Linked DNA regions of Homo sapiens. The protein of the gene in region 4 interacts with the protein of the main gene of each other region in a pairwise test. Each region holds a gene or a part of one and is shown on either strand. Other genes may lie near its edges.

Region 1 (7,192 bases), on a different chromosome or scaffold from region 4:
CTATATGCTGTTTACTTGATATCTGTTTTAAATATACACAGGTAAAAAGTGAAAGGAGGGAAAATAAGATATCATTCAGACATTTATCAAAAGAAAGTGGCTGATGGATACACTACAATCCCAGACTTCACCACTACTTGTTATATACATGTGAGAAACCTGCAGCTGTACCCCCTAAATATAAATAAATAAATGTATATATGTATGTATGTATGTGGTAGTGGCTAAATTACTAGGGATAAAGAAGGATGAACATTTTGTTATGATAAAGGGGCCAATTCATCAAGGAGACATATTTACTGCATGCTTACATTCTAGACATTGTGCATTTGTTTGTTCTCATATTTGTCAAAGCCTAAAAGGCAGGTATTTATATCTCCAATTTACATATGAGGGAAATAAGGCTATTAAGTGCAGAATACAGACAAGAAGTCAGAATTTTTTTTTTTTTTTTGAGACAGAGTCTCACTTTGTCACCCAGACTGGAGTGCAGTTGTGCGATCTTGGCTCACTGCAACCTCGCCTCCCAGGTTCAAGCCATTCTTCTGCCTCAGCGTCCCGAGTAGCTGGGATTACAGGCAGCTGCCACCACGACTGGTTAGTTTTTATATTTTTAGTAGAGACAGGGTTTCGCCATGTTGGCCAGGCTGGTTTTGAACTCCTGACCTCAGGTGATCTGTCTGCTTCAGCCTCCCAAAGTGCTGGGATTATAGGCATGAGCCACTGCACCTGGCCAAGAACTCAGAACTCTTAAAACTATGCTATAGGTTGGCAATGGTGGCTCACACCTGTAATCCCAACACTTTGGGAGGTCAAGGCAACAGGATCACTTGAACCCAGGAGTTCCAGGCCAGCCTGGGTGGGCAACAGAGTGAGACCTTGTTTCTACAAATAAAAAAATTAGCTGGGTGTGGTGGTGCATGCCTGTGGTCTCAGCTACACAGAAGGCTGAGGTGGGAGAATTGCCTGATTCTGTGAGGTCGAGGTAGAGTGAGTCATGATCCCACCACTGCATTCCAGCCTGGGCGACACAGCGAGACCCTGTCTCAAAATAGAGAAAAATTTTTCCAAAGGAAAAAAAAACTATGCTACACTGACGCTTCAAAAAGGTTACAGGGTCAGGCATGGTGGCTCACACCTGTAATCTCAGCCCTTTGGGAGGCTTAGGTGGGAGGATCGCTTCAACCCAGGCGTTTGAGACCAGCCTGGGCAATATAGTGAGACTCCTTTAGAAAAAAGCTCCAAAAATCAAACAAACAATTAAAAAAGTTACTGAATAGTATTCACAGTAGGGGTACATTTTTGTATAATAAATACAAATATTCATACAAAAAAAGGTACAAAAGGTTTTATAAACCAAACTATTAAGTTTTTAATCTATGATTCCTTTTTTACAATATATAACACTTGTATAGCAAAACCTTTTTGAATCTGCTTTTAAAGTTTAATTTTAGGCCGGGTGCGCAGTGGCTCACGCCTATAATTCCAGCACTTTGGGAGGCTGAGGCCAGCAGATCACCTGAGGTCGGGAATTTGAGACAAGCCTGGCCAACACGATGAAACCTGTCTCTACTAAAAACAGAAAACATTAGCCAGGCGTGGTGGTGCGCGCCGGTAGTCCCAGCTACTCGGGAGGCTGAGGCACAAGAATCGCTTGAACCAGGAGGTGGAGGTTGCAGTGAGTTGAGATCGCACCACTGCACTCCGGCCTGAGTGACAGAGCAAGGCTCTGTCTCAAAAAGAAAAAGAAATCATTTAAAAAATTTCATGTGTGACCCTACCAAATAACCTTTAAAAACAAAAGCAGAAAAACCAAATTGTTTGTGTAAGCATATATTCTACCTATAAACTACATTCCAGGTCACAAGTCAATATTCCATCTTTCAACTCATCCAAAAAAAAAAAAAAAAGGGGTTAAACAAGCTGCAGCAGCACCGCCCTACATACAGTACATCCACGGTCAACGACTTCATCAACTACTAGAAACTTGCACAGACTCTGTTCCTAGTTAGGAACAAATGTACACTATTGATAAACTTCACCTTTACAATTAACAAGAACTCCTGTGTGCAATTACTTACCCTCCACTGAGTGGGCGACAATAAGAGTGCCTATTTCAGAGATTACATTTAGTGTCTGTACTAAGGCAACCGGATGCAAAACAACTTACTCTGCGGCTACCCACTTGAGAGGGCAAAGGTGGACTGGGAAGGCCAGCCAGCCGGGCGTCTCTAAGGTTTAACGAGACGCGAGCTCGGGCTTGGCGTTTCTCATCCTCATCTTGGGGCTGTAACAACACCCTGGAAGCGTCTGTGGTTGAAAATGCGGAACACCTGGCGTCTCCCAAGGCGCTCCCCAGTCCGCCCCGCATCGGGCCGGCTTCCACATTCACCCTGTCAAGGGCACGTCCCCTCTCCATAGGCTGGGGAGCGCTGCACCCCGCAAGCGCACGAGGCGCCGGCTCGGCCCCAGGCCCAACAGGTGCGGGTCCGGGTCCGCGCGGGTGCGTGCCCCCACGTACCTTCGAGGGGTGTTGAGGAGCCGCTGCTGCTCGTCCCCCTCCTCCTCATCCTCGTCCGTCTCCGAGTCAGGGTGACAGTAGCAGAAGGACCCGCTGCTCCGCTTGCGCTTGTGGCTGCCCGCACAGTAACAGAATCCGTGGCCCGCCGCATCGTCTCCAGTGTCCGGCCTCCGGGCCGAGCCCCCCGCCCTGGCACCCTGCGCCTGCTGGGCAAGGGCTGGTCTTGGCTGGCGCAGCACCCGGCTGCTCAACGATCCCATGGGTCACGGCTCCCCGAGACTTCAGGGAGCCCAGAGAAGGGGGTCTCCCGCCATGGCTCGGCCGCCGCCGCCAGCCTTCCCCGAGCGCAGGTGCCTACACCGCCACCTTCTCACGCGCAGCCCCAACCGTTGCAGCGGACGCCACAGTCTCCATCCTCTTCCCCGCCCGCAGCGTCCGGTCGCGCCGCGCTCTAGCACCGCAGCACCTCGCCCCCTCGCTTTCGCAACAAAGCGCGGGACGGAGGGCGCATGCGTACGGCGAGCCTCCGGAAGGGGCGGGGCAAGGCGTGCGTGCGTGGCAGGTGGAGCCTGCGCACAATCCGGCGCGCCAGTGCAGGCTGGTGTTTTCGGGCCTGCGGTGGGCGTGGCCTCTGACTAACCCGAACTTCGGCGTAGACGTAGTGTTAAACCGTGGTTCATACGCGCCTCTGTAGTGGCAAGACCTGGGACTCCAGTCACTCATTGTTTCTACAAAGGTGCCTTGAGTCCCCGGTGCTTATGGGCCTGTGCTAAGCTAGTGGCAAAACCCCGAAGCTATTTGGTCTCCTTGCGGGAGCTCGGCGCTTGCTGGGGCCACGCTCTGCTTGCTTGGGCGTGGCCTCCTGTGAGAGGGGGCCCTAGGATGAGGCGATATGCTGGATTCCTGGGCTTCCTTAACATGAGCCCTCCCCTGCTGTAGACGTGAATGGAACCCGTTAAGTTATGGGAACGTTCCCGGCACTCCTTTCCTTTCCTCTCAAGTGCCAGTGGGATGTCCGAATAGGGTCTGGCACCATGACTGTCTGGACTCAAAAGTGCCTTCAGGAGGCCCTAGCAAAATTTACTAGTGTCTGCTTGGAGTAGTAGCAGCTCTTGTGATGGACTCCGGACAGCCAGCGTTCATTCCCTGACTCCCTTCTGTTACTTTTTAAGTAAAATAATGAAAATATTTCAAATAGAGTAATACAGATTCCTGTGGACCGACCACTAGCTTGAAATTTTATCAGACTTGCTTTCATTCTTTTTTCCTCCCAGCTTTATTGAGGTGTAATCAATGATTCATTCTTTTTTAAATAGAACAATACATATAGGCAGAAGCCCCTGCGTACCTCCTCCATCTCATTCTGTCTCCCTCCCCAGTGGCAATCACTGTGCTGAGAATGTTGTATATCATGTCCATGCATGTCCTTATATGCATACCCATAAATAATATTTTCTTTTGCATGTTTAGACATATCATGGAATGGAATCATAGTTGTACCTCTCATTGTGCACCTTTCTCCTCTCTCAAAATTATACTCTCAAGATTTATCCATTTGGTCAATCGCTAGATAATTTTCACTGCTCATTGTATGACTGACCCATATTTGTTTTTACATTCCTTAGTGAGAGAGGTTATTTCTACTTTAACGGCCTTACAGAGCAGCAATGAACATCATGTGCAATGGATTCACCAAGCAGATTCCCAAAAGTGAATTTGCTGCGAAATCTGCAACTTTGTTAGCTATTACCAAATTGCTCTCTGGGTTGATTGCATCAAGGTACCAATTTAGACTCCCATTGGCAGTATACGTAGTTTGAGGGTCCCCGTGGACTAATGTCTGATTCATGCATGAGAAATCTGAACCGAGAGAGGCTAGCCGAGGCAGCTTGGGGTGGAGGTGGGAGGCGGAGAATAATGGCTGCAGAGGGATCAGCTTGCATACACAGAATTTGCCAGCACAAAGAACGTGCAGGTGTTTCCCATGGAGCAGATGTGGACCACCATGAGACAGCTTAGGTCCTGCCCAACAGGCCTGGGAGGAAGGCAATGAACTTCAGCACTGAGAACCTCAAAGAGTCACCAAATTCCTAGAGGCTGAAAAAGGAGTACACATTTGCCTTGCCAGAGGAACCTCAGGTGAGTAGCGTGATGAGGTTGACAAAGGAACCCACAAGAATGCCCACAAGAATCAACTTTAGTCTGTCAGGGTCACATAGGGCTGATCCTCTACCACCACAGCAATGACAGTCAGGTAACAACTTTCCTGCTCCCCTTAACTCTCTTCTTTGCTACAACCCAGACATGGTAGGTTGGGGCAGGGGGAGAACATTGAAGGAAACCTAGGTGGAAAAAGAAGAGAAGCCCATGGTCTCCCTTTCCCCAGAAACCAGCTTCCTACTTGCAATAGGCCAGAGGTGAGTGAGGGAAGAAGCATCAACTGTAAATCAAGCTTGCAATTTTGACTGGATATATTACTTACTAAAATGACACTGTTTTATGACCTTAAGGGACTACACAGTAGGACTTTAAAACCTAAGAGTGAACAGAAAAGTCATGACTCTATCTGAATTTACATCTGAAGAAGGGGAAGAACTGCCCACTGAATAAATGTAAGTGGACAGTGGGAGGGAAAAACAAACATAATTATATCTCAAAGTCATGCTAATTCAATATGACAAACATTCGTCCAGGGTGACTTTATCCCACCTTCTAGAAATCTTCTGGTGAATCAATGCTATTTGTTTTAAAATTTTGGCTAAGCTACATATCATTTAAAGATAAAACTTCTACCAAAAAAATCACCATGCTTCCAAAGACAAAGCTGATGTGGAGATTCTGTGGTCTTCTGGGAAGGCATTGAAGTGGTAGTATTATTTCCTGTAAGTAACTGGAGTGACTAAATATTCACATAAGTAGCTTCTACCAGTAGCTGTAGCTTTTATAATAAACAACACTAAACTAAAAAATTCTTATTATTTCACTCACCAAAATACAATGGATGCTATAAAATCAACAAAAAAGGCAAGTATTCCCACTATAAGAATATGAATGTCCTTTATACATTTATGATATTTAATATAAATGGTCTACTTAGAGCAGAGGGCATCACTCATTTCCAGAGAATAAGTTCATACATTATTTTATGTTATTGAGTAGTGTTTGGCATATGTGAACATTAGCCAGTAGGCACGCATAAGACTAAATATGATTTTTTTTTTCTTATCTTGTAATTCCTGTAGAAACTGAGTAACACAAGTCCTTCAAAAATAGCTCCTTTCAGGGGCCAAGATGAAAAACCTCAGAAGGTGAAAAGTGGATCAGAGAAAGACTATACCTCACTTTAAAGACACTTTTTTTTTTTTTTTTTTTAGATGGATTCTCGCTCTGTCGCCCAGGCTGGCGTGATCTCGGCTCACTGCAACCTTTGCCTCCTGCCTCCTGGGTTCAAGCAGTTCTCCCTGACTCAGCCTCCGAGTGGCTGGGATTACAGGCACCAGCCACCACACCCGGCTAATTTTTATATTTTTAGTAGAGATGCAGTTTCTCCATGTTGGCCAGGCTAGTCTTGAACTCCTGACCTTAGGTGATCCACCCGCCTTGGCCTCCCAAAGTGTTGGGATTACTGGCGTGAGCCCCCGCCCCCGGCCTAAAAACACCATTTTTAAATTAAAATTATTTTTCCACGTTCTTACAAAGTGAACTTTTTAATTAAATCCAAGTACATCTTCAGAATGTTTCTGGAGTTGAAAGGCACAGTGCAAATAGAAATTACTACAATCAACAAAATTGATTTTAAAAAGTATTTTTAGCACAAAAAAGTTTTCTTTATATCATACTAAATTCAGAGCATTACATCATTCCCAGAATACCTAGTTTGAAGCTTATTTTTTTTTCCATTCACTTGCAAGCTGGATTAAGACATTAACTATAATAATATGGAATGTTCAGCATTTATGTTTGGTAACCAGATGTATATGGTTTGTATAACCATACTTTAGAATTTAGTTCAGATAAATTGGTTTTGGTATACTTTGACTACAGAAAGTGATTTCAACATAAGATGTGATGAAGGAAGTCTCCCATGAAAAACTTAGTAAGGATCAACTGATGCTATGGACAAAACCTAAAAAAAGAGATTTGTAGATGCTTTCAAGGCTTTGACTATGAAATATAGAAAACTGGATGGGCATTCTTACTGACCGGATGCTTACAATTTCAAATGAAGAAACTACTAGCCACTCTAAAAATTGGATTAGGGAAAAAAGTGATTTTAGAACAGTCTTCCATTTAAAAAATTTTTCACTGAAAAGAAAATATGGAATAATTTAATATATTCAATGTCTGTGAAACACAAAGTAGAAAGTAATCTTTTAAAAACATGGAATACATATTTATTTCTACTTTAAAATCTCCATTTATATCTTATAAGCTTTGAAATGCAAGTACAGCTTTAAAGCATCATAATGACTAATTATAGGTGAATAATAATACAGACAGTCTATATTCTAGGAGGCAGCTGTAGGCGTTTTAATTGGAAATAAGCATTCTGAGATAATGATAATAGCAGTGTAGAAAAATGAAGTTAAAAAAATTCAAAGTGTTGAGAATCCTCCTGTCCTTCTGGGATTTTTATTTTAATCATCTCCTCCACAGAGAACAAGCAGTACT
Region 2 (7,812 bases), on a different chromosome or scaffold from region 4:
ACACTTGGGTCCCCTCTTTCTAATCTTTGCTGCTTTCGAAAGGAAGCGTTTGCATCTTACCTTGCGGCGGGTATGCTCTGAATCCAATGCATCTCTCAGCCCCTGAAAATCTGGGGGATTGAGTGGAGGCCCTGGCCGAAGGCTGGTGTAGCGGGGAAACAGCTCCTCCAGGGCTTGGGCTGAGCTAGATGGAGACAAGTCTTGCAGGGGCCGGGTGCTGAGCAAATCAGGTAGAGAATGTTAGGGCTGGGAAAGCTTTTGGAATCCACTTGTCCAACTGTGATATTCTACAAATGAGGAAACTGAGACCCAGAGAGGGCAAGAGACTTGTCCAAAGTCGTAAAGCTATATAACCATAGTGCTATAAATAACACACAGGTCTGTGATTCACTTAAAGGTTTCAGCAGAAACAAGCTAACTCTTTAGAGGGGAAGAATGACTGCAGGTTAAGAGAAAGCCAGGTACTAGGCAACAGATACCTGTGTTCCTGAAGGAGTAAAGGGGGCAGGAGACAGTAGAAAAAGATGAAAACTGAAAGGCAAGTGATAAGCCTCTTGGGTTCTTAAGAGGTACAAAAGCAATAAAGGGAGAAATAAGGAACAAAACACCTGGATTTCCAAGAAAGCAAACAAGCTAGGAGAACCACAAGGAGAACTCACTTGAGCAAGGTGGCTGTGCTATCACTGTCAAAGGAGTCCTCTTCCCGTCTCTCTGAGCCAGCGCCAGGAATGAGAGGATCCCCTGCAGGCAGCCAGAGGGACCCCAAAGCCAGAGTCAGGTAATGACAAAAACAGGGGCCACCTGAAGAGAAAAGGCCTTCCTTTCCAGTTCCCTCACTCCTTCACCCCCTCTCCCAAAGAACGGGAGACTTTTCTCCTGAAATCTCTTGCTCAGAGGTTTTCCTGCCTGCTTCCTCTGTCCACTTTCTCCCACCCCTTACATCTAGGTTCTCCTTCATAGTTCTAGGGAAGGGGCTTACTCACGATAGGCTGTATCACGTGAGGTTTGGAGCATGGTCTGGAGCTGACCCCGAACACTTTCCATCTCAAAGATATGCTTAGAACCATCCTGGAAAAAAGCCACATGGAAATCAGATGCAGTCTGTGTTATCTATCTCCTACCTATTGCCAGGGTAGAATTTTCACTCCAGCACTTTGGAAAACAAGAAAAACCAAACGGATCCAATAAGGGATGTCCTAAACTTGAATCAGAAATTCAAATACTACAGAAGCCAGAAAGAGAGTGTAAATAAAATAATCGAGGAGGTATAAGACAAGAGTTGCGGAGATTCTTGCCGATTCAAGAACAAATGTAAGGACTGTATGGCTTATGGCTATCATTTTCAAACTCTGGAAGACCTAACCAGTCTGCAAATTGACTCTGACACCTTTTCTATACAATACTAATAACTATCTTCTCTGTAACATGTTGTAGTTGACTAAGCTATGTCTTAATGATGTACATGCCAAAGTTGGAACCATACTATCAACATAGTGTTGAGCTGGAAGGATCGGAGCTGCTATCCTAAGTCCCTAGCTCCCTCTTGGGATCAAGAAACCTTACCCATTCCCAGTGCACGGGAAATAGCTCACCAACCTACCCCATAGGTTTGCTCTATCTACTCGGAGCAGAGATGTCTCTCACAAAAAAACACTGGGAAGTTTCATAATTTTCAAATTATGGTGTCCCAGGTCACTCCCTCCCTTATAAGCATGGCTGCCTATGCAGTTAAAAGGAATATGAAATCCAACAGGAAGAGTTCAAATCTCATCAAAGCTTTTTATTTTTACCAACCCCAATCCCAAGACTCTCTGGTGTCTAGTGCCACAGTGGTCTCCAAGACACACTTCCCTCACCTTTTTCTTCAAGTTCTTTTCCAATCCGACTGACAAGCTTCGACTCAATTCTTGGGCGAAGCCGTCTAACCCTTCATGAGGCGGGGAGGTGGAGGGTAAATACAGCTGGGCTCGGGCCGTGGCCTCCGCCTGCCGGCTGAGGCGCAAAGAAGCATAGAGCTGGGAGGTCACTTCAGACGACACTTGGTTGAGCCCAGGGGGTTCTGATGAATCACTCAGGAGATCCTCCGCCCCGAGGGGTGAACTGGGGCTGTCAGCTGATGTTGCCATGAATACAGGGAAGAGACAACCGGAGACAGCAAAGAGCTGGGAGGTTCTGCTTTAGCAAAGTCCAGGAGGAAAAGTTCACGGAGAAAGACTTGGGAGAAGGGAGGAAGACTCCACGCCAAGGATCCTTGGTGAATTAAGGATATCGAGGCTTTCTGGTTAGAGGAAAGGTTTCCACCAGTTCCAGGGGCCATGGGAGTGGGCAAAAGCATCCCTTTCCCCAGCTCCTGGGAACAGCGTTAAGAGGGTGCAGCGCAGAGCGGGTGCGGACAGAAGACCTACTGTGGGACAACAGCGCTGCTGAAGCTCCTCTTCCCGACTACGAGTGCTGGAAGCTGCAGATCAACTCCGGCACAGGCTATCCCCGGTCAACTGAGCTCTTAAGTTCTCACACCCAAAACGTCCCAACGGAAACGGACCCAAATCCACTAGGAGCCCAATTTCTGTCCCCCTGCCCTACTAGTCCCTCAATTGGTTCCAGTCTCAAGAGAGGGCGGAACCTCACGCTCCCCCATCCCTTCACCCGTTCTACCCAGGGTCAGCTCCAGCTCCCTTGTACTTTCCCTTCGACCCCTCCTGGCAAGAAAGCCATAGCGAGCTTCCTTGTTCCCTAGAATCTCTCCCTCCCGACCACCCCAAAAGAAACCTTGTGAACCCTCAGTCACGCCCTAAGTCGTCCCTAAGAAGCACGCCGCCCTCAAGCCTAGCCCGAGATCCTCTGCCCCGACGACCACCTGGTTCCGCCTACTCTCCACCCTTCCAGTCCTCAGTCCCCAATTTGCCAAAGTGGGGGGCAAGCGATTGACCTCCTCCCCTGAGATCCCCCTCTCACGCCTCCCCCTACGCTCAAAACCGTTGGCAGCCTCCCGCCCACTGTCCACGGCTCCGCCTCTCTCGCCTCGATGACGTCACCCGCCCGCGAGACCACGCTCGCAGACACTCACATCACTTCTGTATCCCGAGCGCCTGGCCGCGCGTGCGCGGCTCCGGTGGCCACAGATTGGCTGAGGGAGGGAGGCGGAGTCTGACAAGCAGCACTGGAGCGGAGTTAATGCCCAGCCGCGGCCGAGCGAGAACCCCCCTAAGGGGCGGAGCTCCGTGGAAACCGGAAGTAACTCTTGACGGGCACTCGGAGCAGTTCCGGTGAGTCCGTGGGTGGGGTCCCCACCTGGTTGGAAGGCTGTGGGTCCGGGAACCCGAGCCCAAGGAGTGGGGGCGGCCCCGGAGCGAGGCTCACACTCCCTGCCCTGCAGATGACTGTCCACAACCTGTACCTGTTTGACCGGAATGGAGTGTGTCTGCACTACAGCGAATGGCACCGCAAGAAGCAAGCAGGGATTCCCAAGGAGGAGGTGACGAGAGGGCCCCGGTGCAGCCCGGGCGACCTCTCATCTCCAAACACCTATAGTCCCAACCCAGCCCCTCCTCTCCAAACCCCAGCTCGTTCCCACCCCCCACCCCATCTCCCGCATCAACCGAGAGCTAACTCTGCCCCTCTCCCTCCAGGAGTATAAGCTGATGTACGGGATGCTCTTCTCTATCCGCTCGTTTGTCAGCAAGATGTCCCCGCTAGACATGTACGCGGAGTCAGAGAAGATGTTGGGAGGAGGGCTAGCCTTGGGAATTTGGGGATGGGGGAAACTTTCTGAAGTGGAAGGAGCATTGGCCTCCAGAGGGGGGAAAGGGTACTTAAGAGAGGCTGAGTCCGGAGCGAGAGTGCTGGAGCTGGCAGGAGTGGGGGTGGGGAGGGTCTGAAAGTAGAGAAGTTGGTGGGGGCTAAATTGAGGGGTGACGATGGGCGATGTCTTTACTCAACCAGGCTTCTACAAAGGATATGTTTAGATAAAGAGGGAGTCGATGTTTGCGGGGATCAGAAGTGTCTCTTTGGGAGAGATTCTGCTCCCATTCTTTAACACCCTCCTCATCTCTGCAGGAAGGATGGCTTCCTGGCCTTCCAAACTAGCCGTTACAAACTCCATTACTACGAGACGCCCACTGGGATCAAAGTTGTCATGAATACTGACTTGGGCGTGGGACCCATCCGAGATGTGCTGCACCACATCTACAGTGCGGTCAGTGCCAGCCCCAGGGACCCATCCCCCAGAGCTCTTCAGAACCCCAAGACTCCCTCATCTCCCCTGCCCCAATCCTACTATATGTTTGCTCAACTCAAGAGTTTTCTCAGGGGCCCTTAGGTTCTTAACTCCCACCACCACTTTCTCCTCAGAGAGGGCTTGCCTTCCAGCCCTTATTCCTTGTGCATTCACACACCCCTGAGGTTATACAAGGTTTGGGGCTAAAAACCAGAAGTATCCAAAGCCTGGCTCTAACATCTTCCCTTTCCATAGCTGTATGTGGAGCTGGTGGTGAAGAATCCCCTGTGCCCGCTGGGCCAAACTGTGCAAAGTGAGCTCTTTCGCTCCCGACTGGACTCCTATGTTCGCTCTCTGCCCTTCTTCTCCGCCCGGGCTGGCTGAAGCAACCTACCTCAAGTCTCAGGAGAATTCATGTCTGCCTGGGGCCCTTCCGAACCTGTGCCAACTAAGGGCCCCCACTGTAAGCCCCCGCACCCCCACCCCCTGCCCAGAGCAACAGCCTAAAGGCCTGCCCTGATGCTCTCCTCCTACCAGAGTGAAGCCCACAGAGTCCCTCCACCTCCACACCAGGCCCTCTCTCCAGTTTTATCCCCTGCCTAATGCTGCGAGAAGCACAGAATAAACTTTTTGTCACTCTCTGCGGCCTGAGCGTGTTGGTTTGAGGGCCCTCTCAGTCCTGCCCCACGCATGAAGGTGGAAAGTAGGGCAGCCACACCCCCTGGAGGGCCACGAAGTGGCTTTGCGGATGGGTTTCTCAACCGTGGGAATATTGATGCTTTGAGCTGGATAATTCTTTATTGTGGGGACCGTCCTGTGCTTTGTAGGATTTTAGCATCCCTGGCCACCACCCACTAGATGCTGATAGCACAGGCATGAAATCAAAAATATCTCCAAACCTTGCCGAAAGTACGCTGGGAGATACATTCCCTCCCGATTGAGAATCACTGGGCCGGGGGAAGCCTGACAGCCCTTGGGTCCCAGAGGGTGCAGGAGCCATCCTCCCCAATTCCGCTCAGAAAATATTCAAGCTGCAGAGCCTTCAGCAGGCGGGGCTTATGCAGATGAGCGGCAGGTTTGGCTGAGAGGAGGGCGGCTCTATGCAGATGAGGAGGCGGTGCCTGCATGCTGATGAGCTGGGCCCGCTGCCGACGCGGCTGGGAGCCCAGCGGGTCCCGCAGCGGTTCGCGCTGAAGTGGCATCTCTCTCCCGCCCCGCTTCCCCCTGGGTCCTTATCCTCCGAGACCTTTACCTCATCCTCGACCTTTACCCTCATCCATTTCCCCCTCCTAATCCTTGCTCCTGTGTCCCCCGTAACTGAATATCTCCACTCCTGGCGCCCCCCACGTTTCTTCCCTCCCGCCGCAAACCTCGCGACCTCCAGCAGCCCGCCCCCGCGGGCCCGATCCTGCCTGGCGGCTCCCGCCGCAGCCTCCTCAGCCTTCCCGCTCTGCCGGGGTTCGCCCCACTACGCCCCCGGTCGTCAGCCCTCGGGCTTCCCTGCTCCCCCCTCCCGTCCCCTCGGAGCCCCCTCCCCCGCCTCGGCCAGCCAGCATGCAGGTGTCTATCGCGTGTACCGAGCAGAACCTTCGCAGCCGGAGCAGTGAGGACCGTCTGTGTGGACCCCGGCCGGGCCCCGGGGGCGGTAATGGTGGGCCGGCCGGCGGGGGGCACGGGAATCCTCCGGGGGGTGGAGGGTCTGGCCCCAAGGCCCGAGCTGCACTGGTTCCCCGACCCCCAGCGCCCGCTGGGGCCCTCCGAGAGAGCACCGGCCGAGGCACTGGCATGAAATACAGGTATGGGGGTGGCCGGGCAGCCCACCCCTTCCGCTTTCCTTTCGGGACCCCTGAGACTGCTTGAGATGGCCGCCAAGACCCCTTCAAACTTCACTAAGTAGGTCTCCCTTCTTTCCATCTCTTCTTTCTGTCTCTGGCACTCCCTCACTTTGTCCCTCTCTTGGTTTCTGTCGATACCCCTGACTACGAGAATCAAGTTTACCAAGGTTGACTGGGTCCTGTCAGACCCAGGGGATGCCCCTGAGCTTCCCTCCTTACCCCTGGGAAGGTCAGGGATGCATGGATCTCCACGCTACACGGATCTCCAGGCTATGCCTCCTCCAGTGGAGTGTCCTTGGGTCCGTGTCCTGGGGAGTGGAGGGAGGGAATCAGCTTCTCACTCTGGCCTGCTCGGGGTGCCTGACCCAGATACTGCCCCTGCCTGCCCCAAAGGCTAGGTCTTCTGCGACCTTTCTTGGGTGCAAGGGGAGTGGGGCCGGTGGGAAGGATGGACCACATTTTTCATCTCCATGCTGAGGGACAGGGTCTGGGTAGACTGAAATGTAACTGACTTTATCTCAGAGGACTGCCAGACCAGAAGCTCAGAACCTGAAGTAGGGGGTAGAGGAGGGGCTCCTGCTTGGGAGTGAGCTGAGGTCACTGATCTGACCTGCTTTGTCACCTGAGGAATCTGATCCCCTCTATATGGTGGCCCTGATTGGAAAGCTGAGCTGACACCTGGGTTGGGGGCTTTGGGAGGATGAGGGGGCTCACTGGTTCAGAGACAGTCTTCACAAGTCAATAGGAACAGAGGGAGTGGAGAGGGAGAACTAGGCTTTTCTGTCTTACTCTCCCCCCTCCCCCCAGGTCCTCAATCTGCCTTTCCTCCAGGCCCATCTGCCTAGCCTAGCCAGGGACCCCTGTCTGTCTGAATGCCTGAACTTGACTTGGTTTACCTCTTCCAACCTGCCATCTACCATTTGGCACAGCACTCTGCCTGAGGGCCTGGTCTCACAAACTCACCACAATCAAACAAAATTCCTCCCAGCCCCTCACTGCACACAACCCACAGATGACTCAAACACAGACAAGACCCCAGAAGAAGGACAAACCAGACTGCACGTCTTCAATGTGATAAGAGGGAATGGAGACTCTGGACAGTGGCTCCAGAGGAACAGTCACATATGGTTCACTTGTCCTTTTGAGAAAATTCCTAGGACCTCTGCTCTGGAGATAGCACTTGCCCAATCTTATAGGCCCACTGGGTCTAATTTCTTTGGACTGAGACACCTGAGGGCTTCTCAGTCTGGAAGGAGAGGAGCTGGGGGCTGATAATCTAAGTCCATAATGGAGGCTCCACCCCTTCCCGCTGCTTCTGTATCTTGCAGGAACCTAGGGAAGTCTGGTCTTCGGGTATCCTGTCTTGGCCTAGGTGAGTCAGAATAGGGATTAAGGAAAGGAGGGCATTCTTTCATGGTCTGCCCCCTGCAGTTCTCATGTGCCTGGCTTCTCTCTTGCAGGTACCTGGGTCACATTTGGTTCTCAGATCTCAGATGAGGTATAAGTTATCGGACCTAGAATCAGGGTGGTGGGGGTGAGGGAACTTGAAAAAAGGGAAGTGAACCTGGATAGGGGTTTGGACAACAAGCACAGGGAATGAGGGATCTGAGGCTGGAGGATGGGGAGAGGGGAGAGACTAGAGAACCCAGGGCTGAGATGTGATGGGTTAGAGTACAGTGAGGGAGGTAACTGAGGAGCAGTAGTTGATCTTTACCTCTTTCACCTCCCTAGACAGCAGAGGATGTGCTGACTGTAGCCTAT
Region 3 (7,022 bases), on a different chromosome or scaffold from region 4:
CGTTTTATGTGTGTTCATGGCCCTGTCTGCTGCTAAGTAAATAATAATGAGTTTACACATGGTATACTTAATAAAAATTGATTGGTGTTCCAAGAAAGATTTTGAAGCAAAATCCTTATATTGGCATTTTTATTAACATGTGATTCTGCATAGTACTGTAAACCTTGCTGAGTTCTAAACGTGACATTATTCACATACTACCCAGTAATACCCACATGCAGTCTAGCATTTGAATATTCACTATAGGCCTCAGCTCTTACAAATACTAATTAAATGATTTGTTTTAAAGATACACATGTAGGCTGGATGCGGTGGCTCACACCTATAATCCCAGCACTTTGGGAGGCCGAAGCGGGTAGATCACAAGGTCAGGAGTTCGAGACCAGCTTGGCCAGTATGGTGAAACACATCTCTACTAAAAATACAAAAAAATTAGCTGGGTGTGGTGGCACATGCCTGTAATCCCAGCTACTTGGGAGGCTGAGACAGGAGAATTGCTTGAACCTGGGAGGTGGAGGTTGCAGTAGGCTGAGATCACGCAGTGGCACGCCAACCTGGGTGACAGAGTGAGACGCCGTCTCAAAAAAAAAAGATACACATGTAATGAATAGAGTTTGAAAAATGTATTTAATAACTTTTTTAAAAGAATAATGTAGATTTGGGGAATTCCAGAGAATTCCAATTCATTGTTTTTGAATCCTGAAGGTTGGTATTTGTCGGGAATTCAGAAACACTACTAATAAGAGGTCAAATTTGTGCCTTGAAGTTCAACTCAGTGTGTTTTAGTGTTTTCAGCAACAGTTCCATGAAGGGCCACAAGGTGGAGGTGGTGCTTCACAGAACTAGCTAGTTTTGGCCTCTTTAACCGTCTCTGCTCTTTTTCTTTTTCCCCTACTTCATAAAATTGTTGTAAACTCTTCACTCTTTTAGAACAGGAAAGTTTGTTTTTTTGTTTTTTTGTTTTGCTGAAGATGGAGACGATTTCTAAATATTTAAGGCTGAAATAATGCTAACCAAACTCTTCTTAAAAAGAGAAAAGGAAGAGTGTACCACTGAAGCCATGTGGGGCCACAGTTGCCTTTGTTGGAAGCTTTTTAAACTAGAGCAGATTTTATTTCTTTAAGAGTTAAAATACCCATCGATTTTTCCTTGAGTAACCTTTGGTAGTTTGTACCTAGGAAAGAATTTGCTCATTTCATCTGTTTTTGGTTTCATGAGCATACAGTTACTGATAGCATTTTATTATATTTTACTGTTTATAGAACCTGTAGTTGATGTCCTCTTTCATTCCTGATATTGGAAATTTTGTTTGCTCTCTTTTTGTTAGTGAATCTACCTAGAGGCTTTTTTAACTTTATCGATCTTTTCAAAGAAACACCATTTTGTTTCATTGTGGTTTTTTTGTTTTTCTGCTGATTTTATTATGTTTTTTATTATTTCCTTCCTTTTACTTGCTTTGAGTTTAATTTCCTTTTTCTAGTTTCTTAAAGTAGTAGTTTAGATTATTGATTTGAGATATTTTCTCTTCTAATATAAATAATGTCATACCTTTCCTTTTAAGCACTGCTATAGTCACATCCCACAAATTTTGATATGTTTTATTTGTATTTAATTCAGAATGTTTTTTATAATTCTACAAAATTTTCAACTTTTTTCCTTTTATCTATTGTCTCTCCTTTGTTATTTTTGCTATCTCTATGGCATTCTATTTGACACAATTTAGACCAGTCCCTTTATCCCCTTCATTCTTAATTCTTCCTTCCTTCCTCTGTCCCTCAGGGTCTTGTGTTCTGTTACCTAGGCTGGAGTACAGTGGTACAATCATAGCTCACTGCAGGCTTGAACTCCTGGGCTCAAGTGGGCCTCCCTCCTCAGCCTCCCTAGTAGCTAGGACAATTACAGGTGCACACCAATGTGTGCCTGGCTAATTTTTAAATTTTTTTTTTTTTTTTTTTTTTTTATAGAGATGGGGCTTTGCTAAGTTGCCCAGGCTAGTCCCAAACTCCTGGGCTCAAGCGATCCTCCTGCCTCAGCCTTTCAAGTAGCTGGGACTACAGGCATGTGCCACCAGGCCTGGCTGATGAGCATTTTATCTAGCTTTAAAGCCCTTAAATAATTCCAGACATCTGTGTCATCTCATCATTGATGTTTGTTGGTTGTCTTTCCTGGTTTTTCATATGCTGAATAATTTGGGGTTGTATCCTGAACATTTTCATTAGGTTTTTTTTTTTTTTTTTAATAAGACTCTGGGTCTTGTTTTAATCTGCCAGTTTTGCTGTCATTCAAATTCAGTCTTCATCAGTATGCCTGTTTCTATTTACTTTTCAAAGTAAATAACTATGAATATCCTTAAATAACTACACTACCCATCTCTCCAGGTTTTATTGCTACTTTCAGTGGAAAAGATAGAGTGGAATGTGCTTGCTCCATTGTACCTAGAACCTTCCTTCCAGAGAGGATTTTACTTTTGCTTTATTCAAATAACACTAGCTCCTGAACAATTTTTATGTTAATTTCTTAAAATTTGAACCTCAACCTTAAATCCCAAACCGAAATTAGGCACATAAATCTTACTTTGAATTTTGAGGTAAGACTTTTTTCCCCCTCTTCAGAGCCCAGTAGAAACAGACAAAATTCCTTGCTGTTTTCCTATGCCAGTAGGCAGACATTTTTCTAGTCTGTTCTTTCAATAGGAATTTTAGCATTGGCCAGGCATGGTGGCTCATGCCTGTAATGCCACCACTTTAGGAGGCCAAAGCGGGTGAATCACTTCAGCTCAGGAGTTGAAGACCAGTCTGGGCAACATGGCGAAATCCCATGTCTACTAACAAATTACAAAAATTAGCCAGGTGTGATGGCACAGGCCTGTTGGGAGGCTGAGGTGGGAGGATCATCTGAGCCCTGGGAGGTCAAGGCTGTGGTAAGCCATGATTGCACCACTGTACTCCAGCCTGGGTAACAGAGTGAGACCCTGTCTCAAGAAAACAAACAAAAATTTTAACATTATGCAGGGGGTGGAGTTTTAGTCTCACTTTTAATTCCCTTTCTGTGGGGGGTTCATTTTTCTATCCCAAGGCAGTGTTTAAAAATCCTCACAGGAAGCTCTCCAGGGCAACTGTGGTCCCTGACCCACTAATGAAAGTTCCTTATCTTTCTTTGTTTCTGACACTGTGGATTTCCTTTCTGCCTTTTAATGTGCTTGTTCATTAAAATAATGTTTTACATTTATATTTTATCTTGCTATTTGTAAGGATTTGTAGCAGAAAGATTTTCAGGTTTTCTTGATTGCTATCTTGCTGAAACAAATACTTTTTATAGAATTATTCTTTTAAAAATCAACTGATGTGGCCAGGCACAGTGACCTGTAATCCCAGCACTGTAAGAGGCTAAAGTGGGAGGATCTCTTCTCAAGCCCAGGATTTCAAGACCAGCCTGGGCAACATATTATAGCAAGACCCTGTCCCTCCAAAAAATTTTTAAATTAGCAGGGCATGGTGTCATGTACCTGTGGACCTATCTACTTGGGAGGCTAAGGCGGAAGTATCCCTTGAGCTTAGGAGTTTGAGGCTGCAGTGAGCTATGATCAGGCCACTGCAGCCCAGCCTAGGGTGACAGAGCGAGACCCTGTCTCTCAAAAAATAAAAATAAATACAAATCAACCGACATACACAAAAAAATTAGATGCCCAATTAGAATACAAACTATTATTAGAATTGCCAGAATTTCTAATATTCATACACCATGTGGATTTGTATAACACATTTATATTTATGTTTTAGGCTAGGGAATATAATTATGTCTATAATGAATCAGGATTAAAAGAGTTCCTGTTATCTCTTGTGACTGAAAAAAAAACAGTGTTTGATTTGGAAAAAAGTATTATCAGTATAATAAAATTAATGCTGGTTTCAAATAATAACTTTCAGGTACTATGGAAAGGGCAATTTTAAACTTTGAGAACAGAAATAAAACCACTCTAAATAGCTAAAGAGAATCGAGGTTTGTGCGGTTACTTTTGTCTTTGTTTTGTTAGTGTTTAGTTTGTTGAATTCTTGGCATTCCATGTAAAATTCAATAGGAATCTCAGTTTAGCAGATACGGAGATTTCTGTTTCCTTTTACTTACAGTGGTTTCTTTTCAGAAACATGTTCTCCTTCCTTCCTGCCAGGAATGAGTAGCGACAGTGACATTGAATGTGACACTGAGAATGAGGAGCAGGAAGAGCATACCAGTGTGGGCGGGTTTCACGACTCCTTCATGGTCATGACACAGCCCCCGGATGAAGGTGCAGCACATGATGTCATTTTACACAGATTACTAAAACCACCGCTGCCGCTTCTCTTTCTTCTTCTTCTGCTGCTGCTACTTCTACTTTTTCCGCTCTACTGCTTTTGCTTCTTCTGCTTCTACTTCTTTTTTTTTTTTTTTAATTATTGTCATTTGTGAGACAACATTCTTTGGTTAACTATTATGGTGAGTACTAAAAAAACACAGCCAGTAATATTTGGCTTGGTTGCACCTAATGAGTGCTACTTACTGGGCAGAGACGGGGTCCACAACCTGCTTTTGTATAGTCTGTGACCTGAGAATGGTTTTTACTTTGTAAAGAGTCTTTAAAAACCAAGCAAAAGAAACAAAGAAGAATTTTCTTTGTGGGTTTTTTTTTTCTTTTTTTTTTTTTTTGCCCCGAGATGGAGTCTTGTTCTGTCACCCAGGATGGAGTGCTGTGGCGTGATCTTGGCTCACTGCAACCTCCGCCTCCTGGGTTCAAGCGATTCTCCTGCCTCAGCCTCCTGAGTAGCTGGGATTACAGGTATACACCACCACGCCTGGCTAATGTTTTTGTATTTTTAGTAGAGATGGAGTTTCACCATGTTGGCCAGGCTGGTCTCGAACTCTTGACCTCGTGATCCACCTGCCTTGGCCTCCCAAAGTCCTGGTATTACAGGCGTGAGCCACCGTGCCCAGCCCAAAGAAGAATTTTCAAGAGAGTCCATTTGTGGCCTACAATGCCTAAATATTTACCCTTCATAGGAAATGATTGCCAATCCCTGGGGAGATTTCAGATGTTTGGGTTTTTTTTCCTTTTCTAGCCTACTGTAAGATAACTTTAACCTTTTAAAATAAAAATAACTTAGAAATACATGCAGATTATGAAATAATTTTTATTCCCTCCTACCCCCAAAAAAGTTATTAGGAAAAAAACAAGAGAAACCTACTATTAATATTTTCCCTTGTTTTCTTCTGTCTTATTTGCATTGCATTTCTTCTTCTTTTTTTTTTAGACAGAGTCTTGCTCTGTCTCCCAAGCTGAAGTGCAGTGGCACAATCTCAGCTCACTGCAACTTCTGCCTCCTGGGTTCAAGCAATTCTCCCACCTCAGCCTCCTGAATAGCTGGGACTACAGGCATGTGCCACCACATCCAGCTAGTTTTTGTAATTTTTAGTAGAGACAGGGTTTCACCATGTTGGCCAGCCTGGTCTCGAACTCCTGACCTCAGGTGATCTGCCCACCTTGGCCTCCCAAAGTACTGGGGTTACAGGTGTGAGCTACCATGCCAGCCCTACCTAAATATTTTATAAATAGTTTTTTATTCTGCTTTTTTCACTTAAATATATTTGTATGTTATTTAAAATTTCATAAACTTCATTTTTTATGGCAACCTAATATTCTATCATGTGGATATACCATAAGTATTCTGCTGTCAAGCAGTTTTCTGGAATACAGATTAATCAGTAAAAGGATATACTGTCAAGTTAGAGAAATACACATTTAAAGTTACCCAGAGGCCTTAATAATCAATCTGAACATTCCTCTGCAAGATATCCTGGAGTGACAACATTGTTAAGCCTATGCCATTTTCTGCTTTATATTTTGCATATTTTCCTGGTGCTCTGGTATCTTTTTCAATACAGAACCAAGCATTTGATGATTTGTAAGTATTAAGGCATCTTTAGTAACTTCCTCTGCTTCTAAAATAAGCATCCAAATTTTGTGCAAGTTATTTGGAGTGCTGGTGGGTTTTTGTAGTGATACTTGAATGCGTAGTTTAATTGGCTTTGAAATATGTTTTATGTTTATAAGGTCTTGAATCTTGAGAATATACACCATTGCTTCTTGTTCCCTTTTTAAGCTGTCCCCAGATTGTCCCCAGGAGGACAAAATGAGACAATTCCTGTCATCTTTTAATTGTGGGTGTCTATTACACATTTTGTTTTTTTCTCCTTTATTTTTCCTTTGTGTTTGCTTATACCTGACTCAGATCACAAATTCTCTGAAGACAGAGATTTGTTCACAACCCAGCACATCTTTATCACTTAAATAACACATTTGGTAAGATTATTTAAAGACTTGGGAAGGAAAATACTGCCCTTGTTATATGCTTTTAAATTTTAAATTTTTTATTTATTTTTTAATCATAGATACACATTCCAGTTTTCCTGATGGTGAACAAATAGGCCCTGAAGATCTCAGCTTCAATACAGATGAAAATAGTGGAAGGTAATTGCCAAATCAAGAGAACTGACTTGCAAGCTACCTTGACCCTGAATTTTGCTGTAGTTGGTGCTCAAATTTGTCATCAGTCAGATAATCAGATTTGGTCTTATTTCTTCATTATCTCGACCTGAAATAGTAATTTGGAAACTGTTGGAAGGTGGCACAGTTTAGTCTAAGACAGCAGTAGTACATGGGAAAAACAGTATGGGAAGAGTTCTTTGTAATGTAAGGAAATAACAATGTAGTTCTCTATTAATTTAGCAAATTTGTACATTCACAAAAGGCAGTTTGTCTACTACAGCAGAAGGCTGGTTAACTGCCAGAAAATGTACCTCCAGGCCCTGCATGCCGTCAGTAACCCGCCCGGCATTGGTGCTCTACTGTCTTTGGCTAGAGCTTAGTTGTGTTTAAATAATCATCTTTATATTTGGGGTTTTAATTACAGTTCCATTAGTGCCTGTAGATTAGTGAACAGAAAATTGCTTTGGAAGAGATTCTGCCCTGTAGACACTATGTGAATAAC
Region 4 (7,022 bases):
TTCTTTCAGACAAAAATCCTATGTAACACATAGGATAAAGGGCTGCTAATAACAGCAGCAGCAATTTACTGAACAATTACTATGTGATAAACCCAGAGCAAAAAGGCATCACTTCTGAATTCATTAAACTGAGCCCTATGGGGCAGATACCATTATAACTCCCATTTACACAATATATACAACTAAGGTCCAAAGAAATTAAGATATTTCTCAAGGTCATATAACTTGCAGAAACCAGAGTTGGGATTCAAACCCAAGCCATCAAACTTCAGAGTCTATGCACTTAGGAAATGCATCAAAAATCTGATGTTATGGTGATAGTTTTTTTGTTTGTTTTTGAAACAGTCTTGCTCTGTCACCCAAGCTAGAGTGCAGTGATGCAATCAGAGCTCACTGCAGCCTTGAACTCCTGGGCTCAAGTGATACTCCCACCTCAGCCTACCGAGTACCTGGGATGTGCCACCATGCCTGGCTACTTTTTTTCTCTTGTAGAGACAGCATCTTGCTGTGTTGACCAGGGTGGTTTAGAACTCCTTTTTTTTGAAATAGAGTTTCCCTCTTGTCACCCAGGCTTGAGTGCAATGGCGTAATCTCGGCCCACTGCAACCTCCACCTCCCAGGTTCAAGCAATTCTCCTGCCTCAGCCTCCGGAGTAGCTGGGATTACAGGCACGCACCACCATGCCTGGCTAATTTTTGTATTTTTAGTAGAGACAGGGTTTCACCATGTTGGCCAGGCTAATCTCGAACTTCTTACCTAAGGTGATCTGCCCGCCTCGGCCTCCCAAAGTGCTGGGATTACAGGAGTGAGCCACCACGCCTGGTTGGTTTAGAACCCTTGGCCGCAAGCAATCCTCTTACCTCGGCCTCCCAAAGTGCTGGAATTATAGGTGTGAGCCACTGTACCCTGCCTTGAATGAATTTTTAAATCTTTTTCCCATTAAGAAAAAGAAGATATAGAAAATTACCTTTTCGCTTTGGCTGGAAGGAGGATATCAGCTCGAGGGAAGGCAGTGGACGGTAATTGGCCTGTATCGCGGGTAACGGGAGGTCTGGCAACACTGGCAACACATCAGGCACCTGCAGGGGACAGACCCATGGGTGGAGAGTCAGTGAGTAGAAGCACAGCTCTCTTTCCTACAGTCTATTCCCGGGAGCATTAACTGGACATCTTGCACAGGAAGATCCAGGTTGGAGGGGGCCACAGTCATGTCTGACACCACCTCAGTCAGGAAATAAATACAGATGAGCCCATCACAAGAGAATAATGCAGAAAATTCTTATTTGCGGTACCATATACCCTGACAACCAGTGAAGCCCAGAGGAAATTACTGCACACTGAAATTCAACATGCCCCCCAAAAGCAAGCTAAGGAAAACAGTGGCAGGGCAATCCTCTGAGCTCTGCAGGGCCAGGTGCTCTGGGTGGGAAGCCACCAAGGGGCTGAAGGGGTTACCTTTCTCAGCTTGGCTAAATCAGCTCCAGCCGGCTTCTCTGACTTGGTTTTGTTCACCTTGGGTAATTTCTGAACTGAGTCCAAGTTTTTACCAGTGCTTTTAGAGTCATTTTTTTTAAGTCCTTTATCTCCAAGTGCCGTGGCTGAAGTTTTCACAATCTTTTTCTTTTTCTTCCGGGGCTGGTCATAGCTGAGGTAGGATTCAAAAGACATGGTTGGCTGCTCGAATTCATCCTCCATATCTGTCTCCTCAACTTTAGGGAGGGAGCCCAGTGACTTTCTATCCAAATTAGTTTTGACTTTCCCTTCTGGAGTCTTTAGGTTGTTAGAACCCTTCTCTTTTACCTTGGGCAACAGGTCTCCTGCTCCTTTTCCTGTGTCAAAGCTGTCCAGACCTTGCTTGCTTTTGTCCAATTTGGCTTTCTCTGGGTCTCTGTGCTTTGGCTTTTTCAGGTGGTTGTCTGAAGCGGCCTCTGAGGGAGGCAAACACTTCTTCTTCAGGCTGCTGCCCTCTCTGTCCTTCTCTTTCTTTACGCCACTAGAGGGCGGTTTCTCCCTTGCATTGTCCCCTGAGGGTGGCCTTCGGTTCTCCTCTTTGGAGAGGGCCTTGTGTGATTTCTCTCTGCTCACCACAGAGGCCTTCTCATCACTCTTGGCATCCACGGGGCGTTTGTCCTTGTGGGAAGATTTGTGCTCCTTGTTTTGACTCACAACCCCTTTCCCATGGGGTTCACCCAGGTGTCGTTCTTGGCTGGCCCCGAGTCTGTCCTGAAAGGCATTGCTGTGGCCTTTCCCAGGCTTCTGGTGTGAAACAATGGGCTCCTGGTCCTCCTCCAGGGATCTGTAGTGGTCGACGTACATCTGATGAGGACTGGTACAAGATGGAGGGGATTGAACATGGCCATAATCAGAAGACTCAGGGTCTGAAGAGTAAGTTGGTGACATTCTGTGACACCTCTTTCTCTCATCTCTCCTCTCATGACCGTGAGACACTTTGTGAGGTCTCTCGAGCTCCGAGAGTTTCCTATGTTTCTTCTGCCTGTGGTCAGGGCTATAGGATCGGCTCCCCGTGGCTTTCCAGGTTTCTTGGTAGTCCCCCTCCATCTCCTCCTCCTTCTGCAGGGCATCCCGAGGGCGCTTTCGGGAATTGCTCTTCTCAAAGTCCTGTTCATCAGGCTCAGCATTTCTAAAATAAAAGAAAAAGCAGACAAAGTAGGTCTAAATCTTGCTTCTTGAGGGACAAAGTCACAGAATCTGAACTCACCAAAGAAGTGAAGATGCAGAGTTAGAAACAACAAGGTCTTAAGAAGAAGATAAGTAGGTTATGCTTAAAGATACTCAAATCTTAAAACTGGGAAAACCCAAATGAGAAATGGTGAGTTTAACCACAAGATGCAAAGATCAAATATCTCATATACATGAAAATGTGGAGATTTATTAAAACATGGGGACATGTTTAATTTGTTATATAAAATGGGGGCTGCTCACTATTTATCTAGTTCACAACTTAAAAAAATGCCATTTAAGGAGCAGTTAGAAAGAAACATACCAGGCCAGCCGCGGTGGCTCACGCCTGTAATCCCAGCACTTTGGGAGGCCGAGGCGGGCAGATCACGAGGTCAGGAGATCAAAACCATCCTATCCTGGCTAATACGGCGAAACCCTGTCTCTACTAAAAATACAAAAAATTAGCCGGGCGTGGTGGCGGGTGCCTGTGGTCCCAGCTACTCAGGAGGCTGAGGCAGGAGAATGGCGTGAACCTGGGAGGCGGAGCTTGCAGTGAGCCGAGATCACGCCACTGCACTCCAGCCTGGGCAACAGAGCGAGACTCTGTCTCAAAAAAAAAAAAAAAAAAAAAAAGAAACGTACCAAAATGTTCATAACGTTTGTCTTTGCGTGATAGAAATAGGAAATTTTGATTTCTATTTTTAATATTTTCTAATATTCTACAATGATCATGGATTATTTTTTATAATTGAGGCAAAACAATTTCAGAAGGCAAAAGAGAAATAATAAAGAAAACCTTTTCTATCTGTAAATTTAACCATGAAATTGAACAAACCTAAAGAGAAATGTTCTTACCGTTCCACAGGAACCAGCTTCTTCCACTGGGCCACTAGGTCCCTGGCAAAGCTTCCAACATGCTCGTGTTTTCGCAAGCTATTTACTGTTTTCCCAACCCCAGTCTCCTAAAATTTGACAAAGTAATTGTTAGAGGGGTCTGGAACTAGGCTAACGTTTTTCTAAAGAAATAAGGCTTTCTACTTTGAGAAACTCAACAAGCAATACTTCCTTCCTACAACATACCCTGCAAATCTTAACACTAAATTACTTTGTGTCTATGCCCCAAATCTCTAATGACACACAGTAGCAAAGCGTACCAAGTTCAGAACTTTAATAACAAGAGTGATTAGGGCAGGTGTTAGGCACTAAGATAAGAGCTTTGCATACAGTTCTGAATCAGTCTTTACAATAACCCTGTGAAGCAGGAATCAGACCCATTTTACATAGGAACAGCCTAAAGTCATAGAACTCAGATTTGAATCTGGGACTAATTGATGCCAAAGTCAATGTTCTTTTAATTCTAATTTTGAAATAAAGTCATTTAACAATATTCACCACTTTAACTAAAGTACATAATTCAGTGGTTTCCAGAACATTCACAATATTATATAACCATTATAACCATCTAATTCCAGAACATTTACATTACCCTAAAAAGAAATCCTGTTCCTCCCAATTCTCCTAGCCCCTGGCAACCACTAATCTACTTTCTGTCTATGGATTTGCCTATTCTGGACATTTCATATAAATGGAATCAGACAATATATGGCCTTTTGTGTCTGGTTTCTTTCACTTCCAAAGCCCATACTTGTAACCTTATTCTACACACTCTCCAGTGAGAAGGGAATGGGATATCATTATATAATATTTAAAGTCACACAGTTCTTACCGCAAGAATGTCTACTGTAATAGGCAGGGTGGAGAGTTTCTTCAAATATTTCAATAGCTGCAGAGAAGAAAACATTAATTTCAATAGTCAAATTCACTTTAACAAGAATATCTGATTATTAAGTGCTTAGTGCTAACCATTTACAGTAATGAGTATAAGTATTATGCCTATTTACAGTAGTAAGTAATATCCCTATTTTACAAGTATGAAAATAGGCTCATAAAAGTTATGTTTCTTGTCCCAAGATGCAAGTGGGGCAAGATTCACTCAGGTCTGTGGCTTTAGATTCCCTGCTTTCAACCACTGTGCTACACCAAGGGGAAATAAGATGTAGAGAAGAGAATCAAAACTTACCAACTCTGATAAAAGCCATCAACAACTATCATTTTTGCCCTAGTTTTGATAGAATTTATGAGAAAGGTACCAATTTTAGGGGAATTACCCATGGACCTGGCACAGAGGAAGTAAAAGGAAGAAAAGGCCTCTACAGGAAAAGACCATCATGTTTCCAGAAGGGCCACAGTGTTTAACAGAATTGTTTTCTTCTACATAAGTGTAAAGCCAAGAGTAATTTCAAGTTGCCAGAATCAGAGCTTGGATGTTAACGGTGGACACAAAATGCCTGGGTAGATTAGAAAAGTGATCTGGGTTTGATCACATTTCCTTCCTATAGTTCCTAAAACTAGGTCAAAATCAGTACAGCAGAGCTGTTAAGATGGAGTTCTGGAGTCAGAGACAGGCTTGACAATCTGGCTTTGTCACTCGATGAGTGATCTTGAATAAGTCAAAAACCTCCCCAAACTTCAGTTACTTCATCTGCAAAATAGGAACTTGGTCCTGTCTCTACTTCACAAACTATGAGGATTCAGAGACAAACCATGTGCAGTCCTTAGTCATAGTGTCTAGAACACTATGAAAGCTCACTAAATACTTATCATTTCATTCATCGACTGACAGCTTTCAGCGTTCTGCCCTTGATCTTCAACCAGATATTCCTCAGCCAATTCCTACTTGCTCTAACAAAAGTTATGACTGGCCAAACCTTTCTCTAGGAAATGTCTACGTGTATCTAAACATACTTACCATACAAGGAGTGCTTCAAAATACAAGTAGTTTAAAATAGATAACTGTGGTTACCTTTGCATTTAAATATTATATAACAAGATCTGCTTTTACCATGTGTGGCCCAGACTATAATTGGTATGCCATATTGCTATTAGGTGGAGTAACAAGTCTGTTTTTCTGGTCATTCTACTTCAATCATTACTTAACATGGTCACCAGACAGAGCAATTGGATCACAAGTGATAATCTTGAGATCAAGTAAGAGGCCAAGTGGCATATCTAGGGAGTCTCACCTTCATAGATGAGTGAAAATTATCCCCCACTTCAAATCCTATCACCACCATCATCCAACTCAGGAAAAATTTTGTGTTTCTTGCCACCCAAGCTATGGGTGCAAAGACTAATGCCAATTCCTTCACTTAAAGGAAAATTTTAAATCACTGAAAAGGTCAAAAACAAGTGGTTCTCTCATAATGCCATTCCTTGGAAGGGGTAGGTTGGGAATATTCACATACCATCTATTGTGTGTCAGCTACTACACTAAGCTCTTACACGTTACCTCATTTCATTCCCACTAACCAACTCTATAAAGTGGATGTTATTCTCCCCATTTGACAGATATTGCAACTGAACCCAATCAGGTTAGGTAACTTGCTTAACAAGCTGGAAAGTCAAATGTGTCTACTACAGTTAAGTAAAGCCAGGAGAAGCATCCAACATCAGAACACTGTCCTTAGGAAATGAAAATAGAGCGGCAGCACATATACTTCTTAGCATACTTGCAAGAAAGCAGAAAAACTCCTCCTGTGATGTCATTAGACAGTTCAGAACCCACATAGTAAAGGAGGTCACCAAGGGAACAAAGGTGTCCCAGGACCTCTACAAAGCCAACATATAAGGATGAGGCTGGAAGTCACTGTGGGTGTGTTTATCTCAAAGCCTAGCACTAACTGGAAGAACAAATCCTGTCTTTCTGCTTTACTTTGGGTTATTAGGGGTGATTTAAAAGCAGACAAAACTAAAACCCTCAAGATTTTCAGACTCATTTAGTCTAACACAAGAGAAAAAAGGACTTCACAACCCCTCTATTTTCAGTAAATTTCAAGAAAGAACAAAGCAATAACAAGGCAAAGGCACATTGGGCATCCTCAGGTGGATCGAAACTTGCTGTTATCAAACAAGATACCAACTATAGAGCTTGTAAGAACTGGTAACAGGCAACTGAGAAATATCAAACATTTGCAAGGTACATGTTGAGGCATCTCAGTTGTCCCCTGTACAATCCTTCAACCCAAAAAAGCAAAAAATATTTTTAATGTCACCTGCCATCAAAATGTTCTTGGTAGCTTTCACAGTGAAAATGTAACACAGGACGAGGATCCTTTTTTTTTTTTTTTTTTTTTTTGGAGATGGAGTTTTGCTCTTGTTGTCCAGGCTGGAGTGCAATGGTGCCATCTCGGCTCACTGCAACCTCCGCCTCCTGGGTTCAAGAGATTCTCCTGTCTCAGCCTCCCGAGTAGCTGGGATTACAGGCACCACCACCATGACCA

The links.
Region 1: the proteins of ELOA (region 4) and GMCL1 interact in binary tests that used the Homo sapiens proteins (3 or more experiments, as listed by UniProt).
Region 2: the proteins of ELOA (region 4) and CNTROB interact in binary tests that used the Homo sapiens proteins (3 or more experiments, as listed by UniProt).
Region 3: the proteins of ELOA (region 4) and TRIM37 interact in binary tests that used the Homo sapiens proteins (3 or more experiments, as listed by UniProt).

What each region holds. Positions count from the first base shown.
Region 1 is NC_000002.12:69,825,482-69,832,673, reverse strand, and holds the start of GMCL1 (germ cell-less protein-like 1), read right to left. Parts: upstream 3,015-7,192; 5' UTR 2,782-3,014; coding exon 2,522-2,781; intron 1-2,521. Other genes in the region: ANXA4 (annexin A4), read right to left, coding at 7,159-7,192. UniProt on the Homo sapiens protein: Possible function in spermatogenesis. Enhances the degradation of MDM2 and increases the amount of p53 probably by modulating the nucleocytoplasmic transport.
Region 2 is NC_000017.11:7,927,394-7,935,205, reverse strand, and holds the start of CNTROB (centrobin), read right to left. Parts: upstream 3,001-7,812; 5' UTR 2,127-3,000; coding exon 1,857-2,126; intron 1,069-1,856; coding exon 984-1,068; coding exon of another isoform or gene 980-983; intron 742-979; coding exon 660-741; intron 218-659; coding exon 61-217; intron 1-60. Other genes in the region: TRAPPC1 (trafficking protein particle complex subunit 1), read left to right, coding at 3,377-3,475, 3,630-3,700, 4,057-4,195, 4,472-4,600; KCNAB3 (voltage-gated potassium channel subunit beta-3), read left to right, coding at 5,771-6,012, 7,380-7,423, 7,512-7,549, 7,783-7,812. UniProt on the Homo sapiens protein: Required for centriole duplication. Inhibition of centriole duplication leading to defects in cytokinesis.
Region 3 is NC_000017.11:58,998,861-59,005,882, reverse strand, and holds part of TRIM37 (E3 ubiquitin-protein ligase TRIM37), read left to right. Parts: intron 1-4,127; exon of another isoform or gene 4,128-4,141; coding exon of another isoform or gene 4,142-4,168; coding exon 4,169-4,285; intron 4,286-6,423; coding exon 6,424-6,506; 3' UTR 6,507-7,022. UniProt on the Homo sapiens protein: E3 ubiquitin-protein ligase required to prevent centriole reduplication. Probably acts by ubiquitinating positive regulators of centriole reduplication.
Region 4 is NC_000001.11:23,746,464-23,753,485, reverse strand, and holds part of ELOA (elongin-A), read right to left. Parts: intron 4,466-7,022; coding exon 4,409-4,465; intron 3,645-4,408; coding exon 3,538-3,644; intron 2,642-3,537; coding exon 1,456-2,641; intron 1,080-1,455; coding exon 968-1,079; intron 1-967. UniProt on the Homo sapiens protein: SIII, also known as elongin, is a general transcription elongation factor that increases the RNA polymerase II transcription elongation past template-encoded arresting sites.